Linked DNA regions of Homo sapiens. The protein of the gene in region 3 purifies or fractionates together with the protein of the main gene of each other region. This does not show direct contact. Each region holds a gene or a part of one and is shown on either strand. Other genes may lie near its edges.

Region 1 (7,975 bases), on a different chromosome or scaffold from region 3:
TCTTTCTTTTTTTTTTTTTTTTTTTTTTTTGAGAGACAGGGTCTTGCTCTGCTGTGCGATTATGACTCACTGTAGCTTCAACCTACTGGGTTCAAGCAATCCTCCTGCCTCAGCCTCTCAAGTAGCTGGGACTACAGGTTGGTGCCATCATACCAAGCTAATTTTTGTATATATATATTTTTTGGAAGAGAGGGGGTTTCACTGTATTGTCCAGGCTGTCTAGTTCCTTAAGGTAGATTAGGTTACTGATTTGGAGTCTTTTTTAAAAAAATAAGCATTTAGAGCTATAAATTTCCTTCTAAGCACTGTTTTAGCTGCATCCTATACATTTTAGTACGTCGTGTTTTCATTTTCACTCATCTCAAAGCATTTTCTAGCTTTCCTAGTGATTTATTCTGTGACTTGCTTGCTTATTAGGAGCTTGTAGTTTAATTTCCACATATTTGTGAATTTCTCAAATTTCCCTTTGTTTTTGATTTCAGAGAACATACACTGTATGATTTCAATCTTTTTAAATTTATTGAGGCTTGTTTTATGACCTAAGATATGGTCTATCCTGGAGAATATTCTATGTATCCTTAAGAAGAAAATCGTTCTGTTGTTGTTGAAAGAATGTCCTGTAGATGTGTGTTGTGTCTAGTCGGTTTCTGCTGCCTCTCTTAAAGTAGAAGCAGGGTAGTCAGTTCATGTTATACCCTAATATTCCACTTCTATTCAGTCTTCCCTCTGAGGTCAAGAAGCTAGTATGCCTCAATTATCATCATCATCATCATTATCATCAGTCAATACTTACATAGCACATCCAGGCACTCTTCTAAGCACTTTCCATAAAATCACTCATTTAATCTCACCACATGCTCACCTTTGTACCCCAAGCAGCTGTTCCTCACTATACGTGGAGTTCCCCTCACCCTGCCGGGTCTGAGTCCACTCATTCTCAGACTTCTTTTCCTTTTGTGCCTTCATGCAGTTACAGCAGCCACAGGGGTCATGACTCTCAGGAGGTGTGTCTTCTGGGTATTTGTTTCTTCTAACTGCGTCAATGTAAGCTGCAAACAACAGCCCCTCCATTAGGTCTCCATCTGACCCTGAAAATCAACTTTGCAACCTGCCTTTCCTCTCTGGGAGGCTGCTCGTAAGCATGAGAAGGTAAGCATGATGGCCAGGGCTAGAGGCGTCATGCTGACTTTTAAGCACTCATACAAAGCTGAATAAACATGTTTCTCTGTGGTCCGTGGTCAGAAGAGACACTGCTCGTAAAATAGTATTTTTTGTTGCAGTGCCTCCCACCCCTAAAATTTAAAGTAGAGAGGAGTTCAATTCTTTTACACTAACAATTATAGAACTAATATATACCAAGGAACTTGGCTAGAAGATCAAGAGGGCGGATGGGTAAGATCTACTCCTGACCACAAAGAGGTTAGTTTAATGCAAGCTTGTCCAACCCGCGGCCCACAGGTGGCATGTGGCCCAGCACGGCTTTGAGCTCAATACAAATTCGTAAACTTTCTTAGAACATTATGAGGGCCGGGCGCGGTGGCTCACGCCTGTAATCCCAGCACTTTGGGAGGCCAAGGCGGGCGGATCACGAGGTCAGGAGATCGAGACCATCCTGGCTAACACCGTGAAACTCCGTCTCTACTAAAAATACAACAAATTAGCCGGGCGTGGTGGCAGGCGCCTGTAGTCCCAGCTACTCGGGAGGCTGAGGCAGGAGAATGGCGTGAACCCGGGAGGCGGAGGTTGCAGTGAGCCGAGATCGCGCTACTGCACTCCAGCCTGGGTGATAGAGCGAGACTCCGTCTCAAAAAAAAAAAAAAGAACATTATGAGATTTTTTTTTGCAATTTTTTTAAAGTTCATTAGCTGTCATCAGTTAGTTATTTAGTCGTCAGTTAGTGTATTTTATGTGTGGCCCAAGACAATTCTTCTTCCAATGTGGTCCAGGGAAGCCAAAAGATTGGATACCCCTGGTTTAAAGGGAGAAGATTCAATAACAACACCTGCAGAATGTAAAGAGGGTCATAAGCAATACAGTCAAAAGGGGCAGAGCACTCATGTCTTCTCTGGAGGACCTGAGAAAGGCTTTAACAACATCTTTCTTCCGCTTAACATCCCTCAGCTACCTCCACCCACTGCTCCTGGACAGTCTTCCTCTAAGTCGGCCTGGCTAACTCCGACGCATCCTTCTTGTCACCATTTGTAACACTTTCTGCAAGAAACCTCCCTTGACAGCCAGTCTGCGTTAGGTACCTTGTAAGTGTGCTCTCCAAATCCCTGACCTTGCTGTGTAGCCCAGGCGTTTTGTATTATTCGCCCGTTTTGTAATTGGCTGTTCAGTCGTCAAACTCTCTCAGTGGGCTGCGAGTTTTGTGAGCTAAGGGACCCATGTCAGTCAAATCCCCACTGCAGAATCAGCATTAGGCGGGGCACACAATAGGTATTGGATCAATATTTTTTGCCTGACTGTAGGGTGGAAAAGGCTGGTCCTGATGCCGGCTGGAGCGACATGATCAAACAGGGACTGAAGGTCAGGTGGCCCAGTTAGGCGAAAGATAAGGGCCAGGTTAGCAAGCTGCGGAGAGACCGCAGCACCCCACGGGCCCTCCAGTCACCTTGGCATGGGCGGGGCCTGACAGCTGCGGGCCCTGGGCGGGGCACGGGCGGGGGCGGGGCTGGGGGCCGGAGGCAACAAGTCGTCACCGGTGACTCTGGGCTCGCGGTCGGTCCCCAGCTTCCCTACCCCATCCGCAACCCTACTCAGGCTCAGCATCTTTTCACAGGCCTCTATCCATCACCTCAGACCCAGGATCTCAGCCCTTGTGCGTCTTCAGGATCCTCATCCCTGATCTCTCCCGAAGGCCGCCCTATCCCTCCTTCAGGCGGGGACCTAGTACCTTCCGTCCAGCGCTCCCCGCTGCCCAGAGTCGCCGCCATATCGGTTCCCAATCAGCAGGTCCGCCGAGCCTCCCCCGTGCCCGAGGCTGAAAGAGAAGGGGGCGCGGAGCGCGGGGCACGCTGGTCATTGTAGTCCAGTCCATATGAGCTCCCGGGGCACTGGACTACAACTCCCGGCAGGCTCTGCGCCAGAGGCCGTGGGAGACGCAGAGAAGTGCTCGACCTTCGTCAGGAGATCTGTGGAAGAGTGCTGCTGCCAGCTGCCAGCTGCCTGCAGCACGGCTCTTGGCTTTTCCTCATTTGTAGAGTTGGGATAGTGGCTTCGGCCCTGCCTAACCCTAGGGACATCCAAGGAGGGGCGACTGAAGTCCTGCCTGGAAAGGGCTTCGCAAACTATAGGCTAGAGGGTGACAGTATGACTATTATGCTCCTCAGGGATGTCTTTTTGAAGCATACGCTAATGCCTGTTCTGTGCAGTCAGTGGTAGGCCCTGGAGATTCAGAGATGGGTTTTGGGGATGCGGAACCCAGCCTTTGGAAGCTTGAGTCAGGAAAATAGAAAAGTGATGTAGATTTATGGGGTTGGAGGGCAATCTCAGTATGTCCCTACTGCCCCAGCTCCTCAGGCACTGGACATCAGAGGGTATCGGGGTGGAGAAAGAAGACATGGAAAGGTATTGGGGCCGGCATGAAGAGCCTCCATCTTTGCTGTTCCTGTCCTTCCTCCAACCCATCCTACTCCAACACCCCTCTGACACTTTTCTCCTCTCTTCCAGTCTAGTTATCTCTTTAGCCCATTCGTTTCTTTTCTGAAGGACCAGACATTGAGATTAGTAAAAAGGAAATGAGGAAATAAATATTCTTGCTGTTCCTCATCCAGGTATGGATGGAACCTAGCAAAGAATAAAAGCAACACTTTCTTCATAGGTGGATGGCTACAGTTCATCCCCAAACAAAAAATTACCCAGAATTAACTGAGGTCTTACCCAAGAAGACCAAATCAATCATGATATCAACTAGCACCTACTTAGGCAGTTGGGGAGAGATGTATATTCCTGGACATAAACTTGGAAGGGTAAAAGCACCAAAGGGCATGCAGTTCCAGCCCTTGCCTACAGTCATGGCCCTGGCATCACTGACATTATGCCCACTTAAGAACTCAGAGAACGGCCGGGCGCGGTGGCTTATGCCTGTAATCCCAACACTTTGGGAGGCCGCGGCAGGCGGATCGCGAGGTCAGGAGATCGAGACCATTCTGACCAACATGGTGAAACCCCGTCTCTACCAAAAATACAAAAATTAGCTGGGCATGGTGGCGTGTGCCTGTAGTCCCAGCTGCTCGGGAGGGAGGCTGAGGCAGGAGAATCGCTTGAACCCAGGGGGCGGAGGTTGTAGTGAGCCAAGATCGCGTCACTGCACTCCAGCCTGGGTGACAGAGTGAGACTCTGTCTCAGAAAAAAAACAAAAAACAAAACTCAGATAACAAGGCCTTTCAAGTGGAAAAAGCACTGGTCTAGAAGTTGTATAGGTGTTATATTAATAGCTGGGGTTTTGCCACAAATCATTGCGTGATCCTGAACATCTCCTTTTTCCTTCTTCTTTGGCCTCAGTCTCATCACCTATAAAACGAGAAGGTTGGATTCAATTAGTAGTTTTGTTTGTTTGCTTTTTGAGACAGAGTCTTACTCTGTCGCCAGGCTGGAGTGTAGTGGCATAATCTCGGCTCACTGCAACCTCTGACTCCCTGGTTCAAGCGATTCTCCTGCATCAGCCTCCCGAGTAGCCGGGACTACAGTCGCACGCCACCATGCCCAGCTAATTTTTGTATTTTTGGTAGAGACGGGATTTCACTATGTTGGCCAAGATGGCCTCAATCTCCTGACCTTGTGATCTGCCCGCCTCAGCCTCCCAAAGTGGTGTGATTACAGGCGTGAGCCACCGCACCCGGCCTCAATTAGCGGTTTTTAAATTGAGGAATCCTTAAGGCTTAATGTGCAGATGTCTCTGGAATCTTCTATTGAGGAGTGGGAGCGGGGAGGAAGGCATAGCAGGGAAGGCACTAGCACCTCACCCTTCTTCAATCAAAGAAGCTCTGTTTTTTTCTGTTTTGTATTTTGTGGTCTACTAAAGGAAAGAAAACCTACATGTTTGAAAACTACCAAACCAGTTGACCACTAAAGGCTTGTGTCATTTGTAATATCAGTTTCTCCTGGAGCACTTAAAGTCAGTGTTCTTCCCTCATCCCCACCCCCATAAGCACTGAGAAAGTAACAGTTGTCTAGAAATTTGGTCATTTTCACTTAATTTAGGAGGAGGAATTTAGCATAGTGGTTAAAAAATCTGCATAGGATTGCCGTAGGATATAGTAAGATAATGCTTGCAAAGCTTTTAGCACCTCATCTGGCATGTAGTATGTGTTTAATAAATGCTGACCACTGTTATAGACTGGCTCAGAGGAAGAGAAACCATTTTTTATAGTTTGACATTGTAAATTAGGAGCAAAGGGGTATATATGGGGTATATCATAAGGTCCTGGATATAACTAACTGGACCCCATTCCTGTCTATCTGGCAATCATTACCTGCAAATAAGACAAGAAGCAAAACACTACCAAAAAGGGCTGGGAAGTTGCTTGTCCATGTACCCTAACCCCTGAATCCAGCCACTAAAACTGGTGATTTTCTCCCTTTCAGAAACAGAAGAAGATGGCAAAAGTGAACTAGTATGAGAAGGTTTTGGGTCATCCTAAATCCAATGAATTATGGATGTCCTTAAACTTGAGAGGCAAAGGAGGCCCCAGAACCATGAGATGAGTCAAAAGCTCAGCTCTAGGACACTGGACCTATGACCAGCTAACTAATCCACGGAGCAGTGTACTCACAGAAAGCTGGATCCTGAAGGTCCTTCTTGTGCTCTGCAGCTGAGGGAACTGATCAGGGACATCCATCAGGTGGTTGAATATAAAAAGGAAGTTCTTCTGGTTTGGGGAGGCTAGACCGCCTGCTCTAGAAGATGGACAGCTGAGGGTGGGATAGACCTTGGAGTCCAGGGGCACAGGGAAAAGGTCTGGAGGTACTACCTGGAGATGTTAGAATACCATGAAGTCAGAGGTGTTTGGCTGAGAGTGGGCTGTTAGAGCACTGTAGGGGTTAACTGGATTGAGAGGAGCAACTATGAATTATGAGACTATCTAGGAGCAGAGCCTAGGTTCAAGAGTATTGGACAAGATTTGGGAAGCTGGGGCCTCTTCCCAAATCTTAGCTGCTGTCTGGTAGCTAAGCATCCTCTCTCCTCATGCTCTGAAACCTTACATCCCCTTCTTTTCCAGACTTCTTTTCATTTACTTCTAGAACAGTAACAAAAATGGTTTAGCATTATGACCTTCTCAAATATTGCCAAGTATCCACATGTATTCTTCAGTTTGTTTACACCTCAACTAACACTTCTGGATGAATTTTTTTTTTATGATCGCATCACTTGGACTAACGCGAAACTCTAAAGCTCAACATTAAGAATACTTCTGTGACAGTTTTTGCTTAAACTCATCAACTAGTCAGCAAAAATAATCCTCACTGTAAAGTTCAATTTCTGTGTTTTGTAAAAGAGGAAGCTGTGGGCCCAAAGAGTATAGGATGGAGATGCCAGTCGAAAAGGACCCACAGGAAAAGTGAGAGGGTAACTGGGAAGGAGATAAGGGAAGAGAAATTGGGGTCTCCAAGGCAGTTCTCAAAGAGAAGGAGGTAGATGTGGAAAGAAGTTTGACGAAGAGAGAAAGGAGGACATCCACAAACCCAGGAAAAGACTGGTGGACAGAATCACACAGTGTTTTCCAGCACATTCAAATTTAATAGAGTAGTACTAGCTGGGCTTGGGGAAATTGTGTGCCAGAACTAGGTCAAGGGGGCCTGCAATGATCCTTCATCTGCTAAACCATTTTACCTTAGGGCCAGCCTCAGATTTCTCTCAGTTTTCTCCACTTACTTTATTTTTTTGAGACAGGGTCTTATTCTGTTACACGGGCTGGAGTGCAGTGGCGCTATCACAACTCACTGTAGCCTTGATCTCTTGGGCTCAAGCGATCCTCCCACCTCAGCCTCCTGAGTAGCTGGGACCACAGGCACATGCCACTATGCCCACTATGCCTGGCTTTTTTTTTGTTTGTTTTTAAGATATGGGATCTCACTATATTACCCAGGCTGGTCTGGAACTCCTGGGTTCAAGCAATCCTGCCCCCGGGGACTTCCCAAGTGTTGGGATTAAGGCGCCTCCACTTACTTACATGTTGAACTGTAATGGATTCTTGCTGGTGATACTGAGGTCTGTCCTGTGCCCTATATGATTGAGATGCTGCCCCATCCAGCCCTAGAAGAAAGAAGCTGAGTAAATGATCCTCCTGTCCCACTGGGCCTGTGTGTCTGTGCTGGTTTATTGGTTGCCCTCCCATAGGATGAGGGAAAAAATGAGAGAAGGACATTCTGCAGCTAGCCCCCAATCCCCGCCACCTGTTCCTGTTTAAGGACCACGTAGTCCTGTGTGAGAAAAGGGAGGAAGTCATCTTGTAAACAATCATCATCCTGTTGTCTAGACATGAAGGAAGAGATAGGGTTTCAAGGAAGCTGCAAGGGCTGCAGAAGGCTGCACTCAGATTTCCTGTCAGAGGTGGCATCTTGGATTTGCATAAATAGTAGGCTCCTCCAGGAGAAACCTCTCTATTAGAGTTTGCTCCAGAGCAGAATTCAGCATTTAATTCATCCTCAACCCCTTCCCAAAGGATAGAGTTACTTAGCAACAGGAAAATCCACATGGCTTATGTGGTACTGCGGTGTCAGTGTCAGGGTAAAAGCCTTTCAATCTCAAAGATTATTAATACCAGTTGTCTCCCTCTTCCCCCACATATAAATACCTTATGACTAACAGCTTATATACGCAGGTCATTGCCCAGAGTCAGAGGAAAATGTGTGGTTTTATAATGAAGATGACAGCTGAGTTACTTAGAATGAAGCCCCATGTCCTTGACCTGATTAGTCCAGTATGATGAGCAGCTGTACTCAGTGCCCATGGCAGGCAGAATAACAACAG
Region 2 (6,874 bases), on a different chromosome or scaffold from region 3:
TACTCCGGGCCTTGGAAAAAGAGCTGTTTTATATCTTAGTGAGTAGAAAAAGCAAGGCACAGGGCCGGGCGCGGTGGCTGACGCCTGTAATCCCAGCACTTTGGGAGGCTGAGGCGGGCGGATCACTTGAGGCCAACAGTTCGAGACCAGCCTGGCCAACATGGTGAAACCCGGTCTCTACTAAAAATACAAAAATTAGCCAGGCGTGGTGGCTCATGCCTGTAATTCCAGCTACTAGGGAGGCTGAGGCAGCAGAAGTGATTGAGCCTGGGAGGCAAAGGTTGCAGTGAGCTGAGATCGCCCTGGGGCAGGGCCTCCCGCATCAGGCACACCCAGAGGGGCAGGAAGCAGGCGGGCCCCCAGGTATGTGGCTGCTGTCTTCCCCTGGGCAAGCTACCCTGGACTTTTCCCAGGTCTCTCTCCATATTGTTCACCCCATTACTGAACTGAAATTTTGGCACTACGGTTACTCAAAACAAACATTTGAGAATAAAAAAGGGTAGGACAGTTTGTTTGAGCTACACATCCCACTTAGCTCTCTAGAAAAACCTGGTCTCTGTTACTTTGCTCTGGAAACAGGGCTTACGTTCCAATGTACTTCGAACACTGGAACAAGGCTCATGTTTACCTACAATGCACTTTGTAAGTAAACAAGGGCAAGTCAGCTCCTCAGCACAGGACTTATCAGCGCCTTCAGCGGGTGAACCTGCACCCAAGCTCCCTCTGGTGAACCCTCTCGCTTGCAGAGCACCCCCTTAGTCCTCTGAGTGCATATCCACAGCCTGCAGGGCCCCGTGTGGGAGAGGCTGGCATGGTGGAAGGAGGCGGAATGTCACGATGGACAGCCCGGGTTGAAGTTCCACTGGGATAATTTCCTGATGGTATCGTCACGGGCAGTCATTCCGTTCCTCTAAGCTTCAGGTTCCTCATCCGTCACACGGATGTGTGGCAAAACCACCCAGCCTGGAGGTGCTGCTGTGCCTGAGTGCAACAGTGGGGAGCACACATGGCTGTGACACCTGCCTCAGGGAAGAGCAAAAGCAGCATCAGTCACCACCTACTACAAAAGTGACAGCAGCCACCGGCGGGGGTCTGCCGGAACAGGCGCTAGGGCCCCGGGCCGATGGGGTCCTTGGAGGCGGGGGCGCTGGGCAGAGACTTCAGGTACTCCAGGTGCCTCCGGGCATCCTCCTGGTTGTGGCGCACATAGTACACGACGTAGGCGATCACCATGGCGAACCAGCCGAACATGGTGACCAGCATGGCCACGTCTGTGGTCCTGTGGGGGACGCTGCAGAGGCTGGCACCCGCATCCAGAGCCTGAACCAGAGGCTTCCCCACAAACTCCTCCTGCACTGAGGTGTGGCAGGCGATCTCGTCCACAGAGTCGGGGTCCAGCTTCAGCTCCCACAGGGCCTCCTGCAGGGCGCACTCGCAGTGCAGGGGGTTGTGGGACAGGCGTATCTTGGCGCTGAGTTTGCCCAGGGCGTCCTTGGGGATCCTCTGGATGCGGTTGTAAGACAGGTCCAGCAGCCGCAGGCCCCCGGCCAGGCCCGCGAAGGTGGCGGAGCCGATGGCCTCGATGGCGTTGTGAGACAGATCCAGCTCCCTGAGCCGGTGCAGGTGCTGGAAGGCCCCGTCCGGGAGGTGGGAGATCTTGTTGGCATCGAGCTTCAGGAGCACGGTGTTGGCCGGGATGTCCTCGGGGACCTCCTGAAGGCCCCGCAAGCTGCAGAAGACAGCCACAGCCCCTGCGTGGTCAGGGCACCGGCAGGGCTGTGGGCAGGCGGCGCCCAGGTGCAGGCAGAAGAGGAGGAAGAGACAAGACTCCCGGGTGGAGACCAGCAGGAGCGAGGGGCGAGGTGGGCGCACGGTGCCCATCCTGACCTGACCTGGGGACGGGGACACGCGAGCCTCTGCTAGGGCCTGGGGATGGAGCTGGTTTCCGCAGGCAAGGCCTTATCCAACCAGACATGAAACCGCCATCCTGCCCCGCTGGGAGAAGCAGTGCAGTCCACTCTGGCAGCTCTGAAAGGGAAGACGCAGGAGGGAGCGGAGAGGGAGGGAGGGTGGTCAGCACTGCCGGCTGCGGTCACCTGGGAAACGCGTCCACTGGTGGGGAGGGTGTTGAGGGCCCACTGAAGGGTCTGGGGTGGGGAGCACGCCTCCTTAAACAGCTCTGCCTGTAACTTACTTCTGGAGACTCCCAATGCGCCCGGGAGGAGCGTCCCACAAGTGCAGGGAGCTGGCACTGCCAGGGGGCTCCGCATGGCCCAGTGGGTGGTCACTGCGGCCACCCCTGGCCACCTACAGCACCGCTGGGGACCAAAGGCCGGGCGGCGGAGTGGCGGCGGCTTGGACCACCCAGCCCCTCCCTCCTCAGGGTGGACGCCAGGAGGACGGTGACGGCTGCAGCTTCTCCCGAACCTGGAGCGCGGGTCAAGCTGGGCACGTGGCCGGGCACCAGCGGGCGCTCGCGCGCCAGGGGCTACTCCAGCAGCCAACGCCTGGCTGACTCCGACAACCCCTAAAAACTGTCATAACCCAGCAAGCCCTTCCCTGCCAGCCCTAAAGGAGCCGCGGCTCGCACCGGGCACAGAACCGCGCCTTTTCTTTCAACTGCCTGAAGAAGGAAACCGAGAAAACAGAGAAGCCAAGCCCTGTGCGCGCGGCCCGCGCTGGGCGTGGACGGCGGGGCCGCGCGCGGAGCCGGCCGGGAGAGGCTCGGACCCCCAGGACCTCCAGCCTTTAGACCCTCCGGCCCTAGGACCCCCGGAACCTGGGACCCCCGAGACCCCAGCACTCGCGGCGGGGGGATGGTCATGGGGTGGGTGGGAATCCACGCTCCCAGGGCTGGGCGGGGGCTTTACCTGCGCGGCGGCGGCCGGAGGCTGCTCTGCGCGCCGCTCCCGGGCCTCTCGGAGCCCGCCAGACCCAGCTCCACGCCTGGCGCGGCGGCCACCCCGCTGCCCCTGCGACCGCGCCCGCGACCACTAGCTGGGGAGGCCGCGACTCCGGCCTGCGCGGGCGAGGGGCGGGGTGGGGCGGGGCCTGGAGGGGGCGGGGCGAAAGGCGGAGACAGGCTGTGTCGATTCCCCGCGGGGGCGGGGAAGGGGCGGGGCATGTAAGGAGACCGGAACGGGATTTGTGGTTAGGCGGGGGCGGGGCTTGAGGGCGGGTTCTGCGGCAGGGCGGGGCCTGGAAGAGATGGGGGAGGGGCATGGGAGGGGCATGGGAGGGGCCGGTGGTGCGGCTTTAGATGGAGCTGGTACTAAGACCCAGGTCGCAGGGGCTGTGGGCGGGTTGTGGGAGTAATTGTGGCATGCTGGGGGCGTGGTTGTGGGGCTGAGGACGAGGTGGTGGGGGCTGAGGGCGTGGTTATGGGTGGGGGCGGGGTCTGCGCGCCGGGAGGGGCTGTGGGTCCAGCCCCTGCCCCTCACTCTGGGCAAATCCCCTCTTCCCTCTGGCATCAGGACTTCTGGGGCTTGAAGACCCTGGGTCTGCGGGAAGCCCCTGCTGAGCGTCCCTCGCCTACCCCGTGGCCAGTGGGTGAGTAGGGCTAGATCTCCGCCCATCTAGGTCCCCTTCTGCTCCAGCTCCAGCGTCTGACATCCCAAGGAAGGAACGCAGGGTGGGGGCATTTGAGCCGGACCTGAGCCATCCTCATGGTTTTCAAAAAGTAGCCTTATTGTGGTGTAATTGACAGACGGTAAGCCACATATTTCAATTTGGTACGTTTTAACACTCGGATACTCCTGTGAAACCATCACCACAATCAGCATAGTGAACACCCCGGGTTCCCTCTTGGTCATCTCTCCCTGCCCTCCCTCATCCCCAGGCAAGCACTGATCTGCATTCTGTCACTACTGATTACTTTGCATTTCCTATGATTTGCACAAATGGAATCATATAATATGTACTTTTTGTGTAGCTTCTTTCACTCAGCACAATTATTTTTGAGATTTGCCTGCGTCATTTGGTTTGTCAATGCGTATTTCTTTTACAGCTGCATGGTACTCCAGTGTATGAATGTACCACAGTTTGTGTCCATTCACCTGCTGGTGGGCATTTGGGTTGTTTCTGGTGTTGGCTCTTACAGATAAAGCTGATCCGAACATTGTGCACAAGTCTTTGGATGAATGCTTTTCTTTCTCTTGAATAGATGTCTAGGAGTGGAGTGGCTGGATGCCACGGTAGCCATATGTGAAACTTTTTAAGAAACTGCCAAAGCGATTGTATGGTTTTACATTCCACATCCTCCCCAGCACTTGGTATGGTTTGTCTTTTTAATTTCAAATACTCTAATAGGTGTGTGGTGATAGATGGAACTGTGGTTTTAATTTGCGTTTCCCTGTTGGCCAATGATGTTGAGCATCATTTCATCTGTTTATTCTCCATCTCCTGTAGTAAGCGTTGAGTTCAAATCTTTTACTCACTTTTAATTGGGTTGTTTATTTTCTTATTATTGAGTTTGGGAGTTTGTTGCATATTCTGGATACAAGTCCTTTATCAGATATGTGATCTGTAAATGCTTTCTCCAAGCCTTTGGATTGTGTGTTCATTCTCTTAACAGTTTTTCAAAGAGCAGAATTTTTTAATTTTGAGGAAATCCAATTTATGTTTTTCTTTTATGGATCCTGCTTTTGGTGTCATATATAAGAAATCTTTGCCTCACCCAAAGTCACAAGGGTTTTAGAGTTTTAAAGGTTTGCATTTGGGTCTATTACCTATTTTAAGTTTATTTGGGTTTATAGTATGAGATATGATTCAATGTTTATTTTTTGTGTATGTGGATAATCAGTTTTTTCCAGACTGTTGAAAAGACTATCCTTTCTCTTGTTTGCTGAGAGTCTTTTTAATCAGGAATGAAAGTTGGATTTTGTTTTTTCTGCATCTATTGAGAATCTTTTTGCGTGATGATCTATTAATATGATAGAGTATAATGATTGATTTTAAAGTGTTAAATCAATCTTGTGTTCTTGGGATAAAGCCCACGTGGTCATGATGTATTATCATTTTTATATGTGGTTGAATTATTTAATGGATATACAACTGCTGAGTTTATTTTATTCTTGACTGAATGTATGTAGTTTGTATCGCTCAAGAAATTGCCCATCGCATATAAGTTGTTGAATTTATTAGCATAAAGTTGTTCATAATATTCCTTTATCCTTTCAACATCTGTGAAGTATGAGGTGATGTCATCTTTCTCATTTCTGATACTGGCAATTGTGGCTTTTTTTTTAACTGAACAATCAGATAGCAGTTTATCAATTGTATTGATCTTCTCAAAGAAATAGCTTTTTGGTTTCGTTGATGCACTTTTTTTTCATTGACTTCCACTCTTTATTCTTTCTTTTGCTTGTTTTTTTGTTTGTTTGTTTTTGTTTTTGTTTTTGTTTTTGAGACAGAGTCTTGCCTTGTTGCCCAAGCTGGAGTTCAGTGGGGGCAATCTCGGCTCACTGCAAACTCCATCTTCCGGGTTCAAGTGATTCTCCTGCCTCAGCCTCCTGAGTAGCTGGGATTACAGGCATGTGCCACCATGCCCAGCTAATTTTTGTATATTTTTAGTAGAGATGGGGTTTCACCATGTTGACCAGGCTTGTCTCGAACTCCTGACCTCAGGTTATCCACCCACCTCGGCCTCCCAAAGTGCTGGGATTACAGGCATGAACCACTGCACCCAGCCTCTTTTGCTTACATTGGGTTTGACTTTCTCTTCTTTTTTAGGTCTCTTAAGGTGGAAGCTGGGGTCACTGATCTGTACAAGCATTCAGTACTATAAATTTCCCTCTAAGTCCACCTTTAACTGCATCCCAGAAATTTTGATATGTTGTATTTTTGTTTTCATTAAGTTGAAAATAATTTATAATTTTCCCTTTGATTTCCTTTTTGACCCATGAGTTTAGAGCTATGCTATTTCACTTCCACATATCTGTGCATTTTCCAGAGCTCTTTCTGCTGTTGATCATTACTTTAAAGCCATTGTTGTCAGAGGACATATTCTATGTTTCGGATCCTTTTAAATTTATTGAGACTCTTTCATGGCCCCGATTATGGTTGGCGGTTGTTGCATGCGCACTTGAATTTGTGTACTGTTGCTCCACGAGGTGTCCTATAAACGGCAATGACTGTGTTATTTGAGTAGCCCATATTATCATCCACTTTCTGTCTACTTGCTCTGCTAATTATTGAGAGACCAGCCTGGGCAACAAAGTGAGACACCATCTCTACAAAAAATCAAAAACTCACCCATCCATGGCAGCGCATGCCTGCAATCCTAGCTACTTGGGAGGCTGAGGCAGGAGGATTTCTTGAGCCCAGGAAGTCAAGGCTGCAGTGAGCCGTGATTGTGCCATTGCATTTGAGCCTGGGTGGCAGAGCAAGACCCTGTCTCAAACAAACAAATTCTTGATAGCGGTGTTGAAACCTCTGACTGTAATTGCAGATTTGTCTGTAATTTTTCCTTGCAGCTCTATCAGCTTTTGCTTCATGTGTTTTGAGACTCTGTGCTCACATCGTGCATGCTCCTGACTGGTTGACCCCTGTGTCATCATGAAATGACCCTCTTTATCCCTAGACTCTGACTTGAAATTGACTCCTGCTTTCCTTTGATTAGTTTAGCATGGGATATCTTCTTTTACCTTGTTACTTTTTACCTAGTGTGTCTTATACTTAAATTAGCTTCATTGGAGATTTCCATAGGATCAAAGTATCTGCTTTGACATATTTATTAACCTAAAAAAGTAATAACAGCTTTTCAGTGCAGAAACCACCTTATCTATGTGACAAAGCTCGGGCCATCAGTGGCAAGGTAGATTGGCATCACGTACCTTTGATACAACAACCTGAGAAGGACGTCACTTCTGCGATA
Region 3 (7,235 bases):
ACAGAGATAATCTGGAATGTTCCCTGGTTTATTAACCATTTATTTTAATTACCTTATTTTTTAAAAGTAAATCATACTTCCAAATCTATGACAGAAAAAGGAAGAGACTATTTTATAGGAAAATAACTCAGGGCCGGGCGCGGTGGCTCACGCCTGTAATCCCAGCACTCTGGGAGGCCAAGACAGGCAGATCACCTTAGGTCAGGAGTTGGAGACCAGCCTGGCCAAACATGGTGAAACCCTGTCTTTACTAAATACACAAAAAGTAGCCAGGTGTGGTGGCACGTGCTTGTAATCCTAGCTACCCAGGAGGCTGAGGCAGGAGAATCACTGGAGCCAGGAGTCCGAAGCTGCAGTGAGCTGAGATCACGCCACTGCACTCCAGTCTGGGCGACAGAGAGAGACTCCATCTCAAACAAAAACAAAAACAAAAACCAAAACCAAAAAACACATAGTCAAATGCAACATGTGGACCTTGTGTGGATTCTGATTTGAAAAAAACATCTGCCAGGAGATACCCTAGAGGTAATCAGATATATTTCAATATTGACTAATAGGTGATAGTGAGAAATTATTATTAATACTATTATCACTACCCAGAACAATCTTGTTCATGTATTTCTGGACCCATTTCCCCGCCCAAGACACTAGAAGCAGAATGGTGTCTGTCTCATTAAAGACAGTAGGTATAGAGCACTGAGGTTAAGAGTGTGAATCCCACTTGACCATTTACTGAGCGATCTTGTGCAAGTTACTTCCTTCTGTGCCTGCTTGGTTAAAAAAAAATCTGGAAGGTCAGGTGCGGTGGCTCACACCTGTAATCCCAGCACTTTGCGAGGCTGAGGAGGGCGGATCACGAGGTCAGGAGTTTGAGACCAGCCTGACCAACATAGTGAAACCCCATCTTTACTAAAAATACAAAAATTAGCCGGGCGTGGTGGCGGGTGCCTGTAATCCCAGCTACTCAGGAATTTGAGGCAGGAGAATCGCTTGAACCTGGGATGCGGAGAGGTTGCAGTGAGCCGAGATTATGTCACTTTCACTGCACTCCAGCCTCGGTGACAGAGCGAGACTCCGTATCAAAAAAAAAAAAAAAAATCTGTAAAGTGGGGGAAACAATATAACCCAACTCATGGGCTTGATTGAAAGAGTGAGTGAGTGGATATTTGTAAAGCAGAACAAAGTCTGGCGCATAGTGCACTTATGAGTATTTGCTTAGCAATCTTCCTTCCTGGGCCACACTTATATTCTATGAATCCAAGGGAAAGTCTTTGAATGAGGAAAACCCAAGGACAATGGCTCTACCAGATTCAGGTGCCCCAGTGCCCCAGCAACAGAATGTGGCAGGCACAGACAGGGTCCCCACAAGGGCAAACAAAACAGAAGACGCTGGAAAGTCATGGCTAGAGGCCTGGCTTGTGTTTTTTCTGAGATGGAGTCTCGCTGTTGTCCAGACTGGAGTGAAGTACCGCAATCTCAGCTCACTGCAACCTCCGCCTCCTGGGTTCAAGTGATTCTTCTGCCTCAGCCTCCCAAGTAGCTGGGATTACAGGCACTCACCACCATGCCCAGCTTATTTTTGTATTTTTAGTAGAGATGGGGTTTCACCATGTTGGCCAGGCTGGTCTTGAACTCCTGACCTCAGGTGATCCACCTGCCTCGGCCTCCCAAAGTGCTGGGATTACAGGCGTGAACCACTGCGACTGGCCTTAGAAGCTTGGCTTCTGAAGCCGGATTGGGTTCAAATCCTGTCTCTACTACCAGTGAGGGGTGTGACTTAGAGCAAGTCACTCTCTGGCTCTCTATACTCCAGTTGACTCTGTTTGTAGAACAAAGCCAGAAAAGTTCCGGCCTCTCAGGCTGGAGAGGAGCCCAGCCCCAGCTCCCGGAGCAGCATAGCACCCTCAGAGGCCCTGGTACTTGGCCTACTCGCTTGTGGGTTTAAGTCAGCCAACTCCTTTCTGCTCTTCAGGCCTCAGTTTTCCCATCCTCAAAAATGGGAAACTTGACTGCCTTGCCTCTGTGAAAAAGGGAGGAGAAAGGAAAGTCAACATTTGCTAGGCACCTGTCCTGAGGCCCAGAGGGCCTGTCCTGAAGCCCAAGATGAAGCCGTCAGAAGCAGTGACGCAGGACTCCAATTCCCCTGGGTCTGGTTCCAAATCAACCCGCCAAGCTACCGTCTCTCAATAATTCTATGGAAAAAGCCCTTGGAGAGCTTTTGAAAGTCATGTCCTTTGAAACTCAAGTATCGAGACAAAAGGGGTTCTCCCCTCGCAGTGAGGATTCTCCTGCGCAGCCGAAGCCCCAGCAAGACACTTCCAAACCGGCGCCAACAGCGGCGATGCCCTTTCCACGTTGCTGATGGAAAAGCCACTCCCAGCTCTTCCCGCCACCCCAGGTCCCCGGTGCAGGACAGAGGAGCGTCCCCAGCTGTGCCACCAGCCCGGCCCCCAGCCGACCCGAGTGTGGGGACATCCCCCGCGGAGAATGAAGAACCAACGTACCCCAAAGCTTGGCGGCTCTGCCCGAGCTGCAGCGGCACGGTGGGGGACGCCTCTCTCCCTGGACTCAGCAAAGGCTCCCAAACGTCGTCTCTTCCAAATTCCACCGCACAGCCAGCTCTTTCTCTTCACTGGGAGGGTCCGCAGGGGCTGACTTGCTCCTTAAGGTCCCAAGACTATTAAGCGACACCCGGTGAGGCCGGGAAAGGGGCTCTAAGAGGCATGGACGAGAGTTGGCGGTGACCAAGCCACTGGAAGCTCCTGGAGACTCGAGGTAGAACGAATGTGGGAACAGGGCAGGAGTCCCAGAATGGGATGTTGAGGCTGGGGGTGTCCTGGGGCTACCACAGGGAAGGACCCGGCGCAGAGCTCCCTCTGGAACCCGGCACTGCGGCCCGCGCCCTCTACTCCCCGCGCGCCGGCCGGCAACCCTCGGCGCTGCCCGGTGCAGCCCGCCCGAGCGCACACAATGAGGCGCTTTCAGACGTGGCTGCGGTCCCGAGGTGGCCAGCGGGAGCTAGCGCCGTGGGGGAAGGAAGGAGCCGGTTGGCCCACCCCCGACCGAGGGGCCACGCCTCGGGGGAGGGGCGCCGGCCGAGGGCGGGGCAGGAGGGCCCAGGTGGGCTGGGGCTCTGAGAGGCTCAACTTTTAGCCCAGAATGTCAAAGGGCGCTGGCAGAGTCACCTCTCATCTGACTACAGAGGAACGTTGTACCCCACCCCACCCCAAATCCCCAGAGAAGGGGGGCTCCTGGGAGGACAAAGGCCCTAGTGAAGGAAGTCGAATCTTAATCTTGACCCTCCTCACTCTCGGGGGCATCCTTGCGGCGAGGTGACTTGGAATCCAAACCCTTCCCAAGGCCACGGCACCTGGATGACACATGGACCCGGTGCAGTGTCCCAACTGGGAAGAGCGGAGAGACCAGGTGGCCTTAGGAGCTGGGTCCGCAGCTTTTCCCCTCCTCCTGCGCATTCCCTGCCCTAGCCTAGGCCCAGAGGCGCAGGTTCATAGCAGGTCCAGATAAAGACATGATACGTTTCAATAAATAAGATATTTCCGGCCAGGGCTGGGCGCGGTGGCTCACGCCTGTAATCCCAGCACTTTGGGAGGCCGAGGCGGGCGGATCACGAGGTCAGGAGATCGAAATCATCCTGGCTAACACAGTGAAACCCCGTCTCTACTAAAAATACAAAAAAATTAGCCAGGCCTGGTGGCGGGCACCTGTAGTCCCAGCTACTCGGGAGGCTGAGGCAGGAGAATGGCGTGAACCCGGGAGGCGGAGCTTGCAGTGAGCCGAGATCGCACCACTGCACTCCAGCCTGGGCGACAAAGCGAGACTCCCTCGCAAAAAAAAAAAAAAAAAATCCGGCCAGGCGCGGTGTCTCACGCCTGTAATCCCAGCACTTTGGGGGGCCGTAGTGGGTGGATCACGAGGTCAGGAGTTCGAGACCAGCCTGGCCAACAGGGTGAAACCCCGTCTCTACTAAAAATACAAAAATTAGCCGGGCGTGGTGGCAGGCACCTGTAATCCTAGCTACTCAGGAGGCTAAGGCAGGAGAACTGCTTGAGCCCAGGAAGCGGAGGTTGCAGTGAGCTGAGATTGCACCACTGCACTCCAGCCTGGGCGACAGAGCGAAACTGTTTCAAAAAAAAAAAAAAAAAAAATCCCCTTTACAAATAACAGGGCAGAGCCCAGGCACCTGAAAAGGATGAAGCATTTCTAGGTCTTGTCAAATTAGTGATGGGATCTTAATCAAGAACTCCCTGCTGCTGGGAGAAGAAATAAGCAGTCCTTCCTGGTTGTGGTTTGGCAAGATGAATTAAGATTCTTGACAATGGTCGTAAGCTTTTCGGATTGGTAATTCCTTTCTAGGAGCTATCTTAAGGAAATAAACCAGAAACAAGGATTTATGTACAGGGTTCATATAAGTGTTGTTCATGATTTTGATACTGATTTTTTTTTCAGATGGAGTCTCACTTTTGTAGCCCAGGCTGGAGTGCAATGGCAGGATCTAGGCTCACTGCAACCTCCGCCTCTCGAGTTCAAGTGATTCTCTTGCCTCAGCCTCCTGAATAGCTGGGATTACAGGTGCCCACCACCACGCCAGGCTAATTTTTGTACTTTTAGTAGAGACAGGGTTTCACCATGTTGTCCAGGCTGGTCTCGAACTCCTGAGCTCAGATGTGATCTGCCCGCCTCTGTCTCCCAAAGTGCTCGGATTACAGGCATGAGCCACCGTGCCCGGCCTGTTCATGATTTTTAAAAAGTTAGAAATAGTGTATGGGATAGAAAGATGTGTGCCAGAAGGCCAACCATAACTCTGGGTAGGGGATTGGCCGGCAATCATTATTTTCCTTAGGATCATGTAATTTACATTTCCTTAATCAGTATTTAGAAGTTATCTGGCCAGAAAGCTCCAAAACCTCTTTACAAAGCATGAATAAGGAGAGGGGGCAAGGATGTGGAGGATAAGGTAAGAGGGACGCAAAGAGAGAGAATTGCTTTAATAAGCTTCAAGATGGGCACTCAGTGGGGCATTAGACACCTCACCTGCTTTGGCAGAAACTGGACTAATCATTTGGAAGAATTAGAGATTTCTCTCCCACAAAACAAATTCAATAATTATCTCAAATATGACTTATCTATGGCTTCAGCTCAGTTGATAAAATCCTGTGTATTTCTTACCTTTCTTCCTCCTGCAACTATGCTGTGTGGTTCAGTTTCAGAAACTACCAATAAATGATCCGTAAATAATTTGATATTCACCAGACACAGTTGTAATTTTCCAACCCGCAGCTCCCATATGCCATGTGGATTCCACTAAAAACTAATATACTTGGGGTTGGACCAGGAAACTTTTGCCAAAGAGCTAACAAAAGCTCCAAGGTCTTTGGGCAGAGCCGTGGCAAAGCAAGGCTACTGGTGAGTAACTCGGAGAAGTGTGCTCAACTTCAGCCCTCCCTATTCTTCCTCCCTCCAAAGCCTTGCTTCAAAAATAGCTAATACAACCTTCCATGTTGAACATTTTAATTAGAAAGCTACAGAACATAATGGATTCTTTATACAAGTTTTGCATTCAAATAATTTAATAAAATGCAAACCAAAGTTTATACGTATCTTTAGCCATCTTCCCATGTTTCATTAAATTCTGGGGATTTAAACCACAAGCAATTTTTCATTTCAGTCTCAAGAGACGGGGCACACTGGCCCATGCCTATATTCCTGGCACTTTGTGGGGCTGAGACAGGAGGATTTCCTGAGGTTGGGAGTTCAAGACCAGCCTGGGCAACATAGTGAAAACCCCATCTATAAAAATAAATAAATCTCAAGAAAAAAATTTAGGCATCTAAAATAGCCAGAATATTAAAAAAAGACAAGGGGGACAGTGTTAGAGAATTCCTCTGCTTGAATACTTCAAAATAGCTTTGTTTCCAAAACTGTTTTTAGTCAGCCTAAAGGAAACGGATGCTGGAGATGAAAAATGATCTCCAAGGTAAACTGAGGCACACACTGAGGGGTGTGTTTCTGGGTGGGCATGAAGCATGGATCACCGGAGCCATGTCCTTCCAGGGGCAACGACCTGCTTGGGATCAGGAAGCAGCTCCATGTGTTCTTGGAGGAGACTGCACGCATCCTCAGGAGGTGAATCGGCTGAACAAGCCATCTTCCGTGTGCAGAGGCCCCTTCCAGCCATCTCTGCTCCTGCAGACACTTGCTTAGCCACGAGGATAATCCACTGGACTGCTTGGTATTCTGCTAGTGGCCAGGCTGGACTGGCCTGCCCAGGCCAGCATCCTCTTTACACCCTCACTGCTTCTTGTGTCCTTCCCAAAGCTGCCCGCCCCACTCTGATGGGCACCCTTTTCCTTAGTCAAGGGAAACGCCAGCCGCTGGGCTTCCCGCTAGCCTTCCAAATAAACTTGTGGTTGTCAGGCAGCGGGAGCCAATCCCAACACCAACCCCTGTCGCCCCTGTCCTTTGCAGGAAGGGGGAGGGCTGTCAAGGAGGAGGAGGGCCAAGTGCCCAGGCTGTTGGGTGAGGGCCAGAAAGAACCTGTTGTGACAATGCTTTCTTCCCCCAGTGCTGCTGAGGGGGCTGAGAATGAAACAGCCCCTCTGACTTCAGCCTGCCATCCAGGGGCACAGACAGAGGGAAAAACCGGGCAAAGAGCCAGCCACAGTCGGGCAGGGATCCAGGGCTGCTCAGCTGAGCTGATGACAGATGACTGACTGTTGGGCTGGGGCAGGTGGACGGTCCAAGTGTCCTTCAGCGGCCCTCCCTGATTGCCTGTGCTAATGCGGCCCTTGCCCTTGGGCCCTGCCCCTCCAGGTCTCCAGTTAAAGGCCTCAGCTCTGGAAATCAAAGCTGTGAATGGGAAATGGAGAAGCCCAGGGGTGCAAAGTGCTAGTGATTGGCATGTTTGTCACAAGAGAGCCCTGAAAAGAGTAAGAGTGGCTCACAACAGAAGGAAGAAATGCACAGTGTGTTCCTCAGTTCAACAGAGGAAAAGTCTCTGCTTGACCAGAGATGGGACTCTTTCCAAGATGTCTGAACTGACTGCAATTTTCTCCTGAAATTCAACGCTAAGGCAAAGAAGAAAAACCCAAAAAGCTAATTATAGCCTCCAGGAACTCTCAGACCTTTCCACAAACTAGTCCCTGACAATTCTGCAGGAGCTCTGAAGATACGGAACTGTGTAGAGCAAAACTGGAAAGAACCGTTGTCTCTGAGGG

The links. The genes of interacting proteins can lie anywhere in the genome.
Region 1: the proteins of CHST6 (region 3) and DNAJC18 purify together in Homo sapiens (affinity purification with mass spectrometry; 2 studies listed by BioGRID and IntAct, with this or other methods). This does not show direct contact.
Region 2: the proteins of CHST6 (region 3) and LRRC3 purify together in Homo sapiens (affinity purification with mass spectrometry; 2 studies listed by BioGRID and IntAct, with this or other methods). This does not show direct contact.

The regions. Positions count from the first base shown.
Region 1 is NC_000005.10:139,436,510-139,444,484, forward strand, and holds the start of DNAJC18 (dnaJ homolog subfamily C member 18), read right to left. Parts: upstream 3,017-7,975; 5' UTR 2,937-3,016; coding exon 2,897-2,936; intron 1,050-2,896; coding exon 863-1,049; intron 1-862.
Region 2 is NC_000021.9:44,451,652-44,458,525, reverse strand, and holds the start of LRRC3 (leucine-rich repeat-containing protein 3 precursor), read right to left. Parts: upstream 3,017-6,874; 5' UTR 2,871-3,016; intron 2,029-2,870; 5' UTR 1,882-2,028; coding exon 1,108-1,881; 3' UTR 1-1,107.
Region 3 is NC_000016.10:75,492,436-75,499,670, forward strand, and holds the start of CHST6 (carbohydrate sulfotransferase 6), read right to left. Parts: upstream 3,007-7,235; 5' UTR 2,505-3,006; intron 1-2,504. UniProt on the Homo sapiens protein: Sulfotransferase that utilizes 3'-phospho-5'-adenylyl sulfate (PAPS) as sulfonate donor to catalyze the transfer of sulfate to position 6 of non-reducing N-acetylglucosamine (GlcNAc) residues of keratan.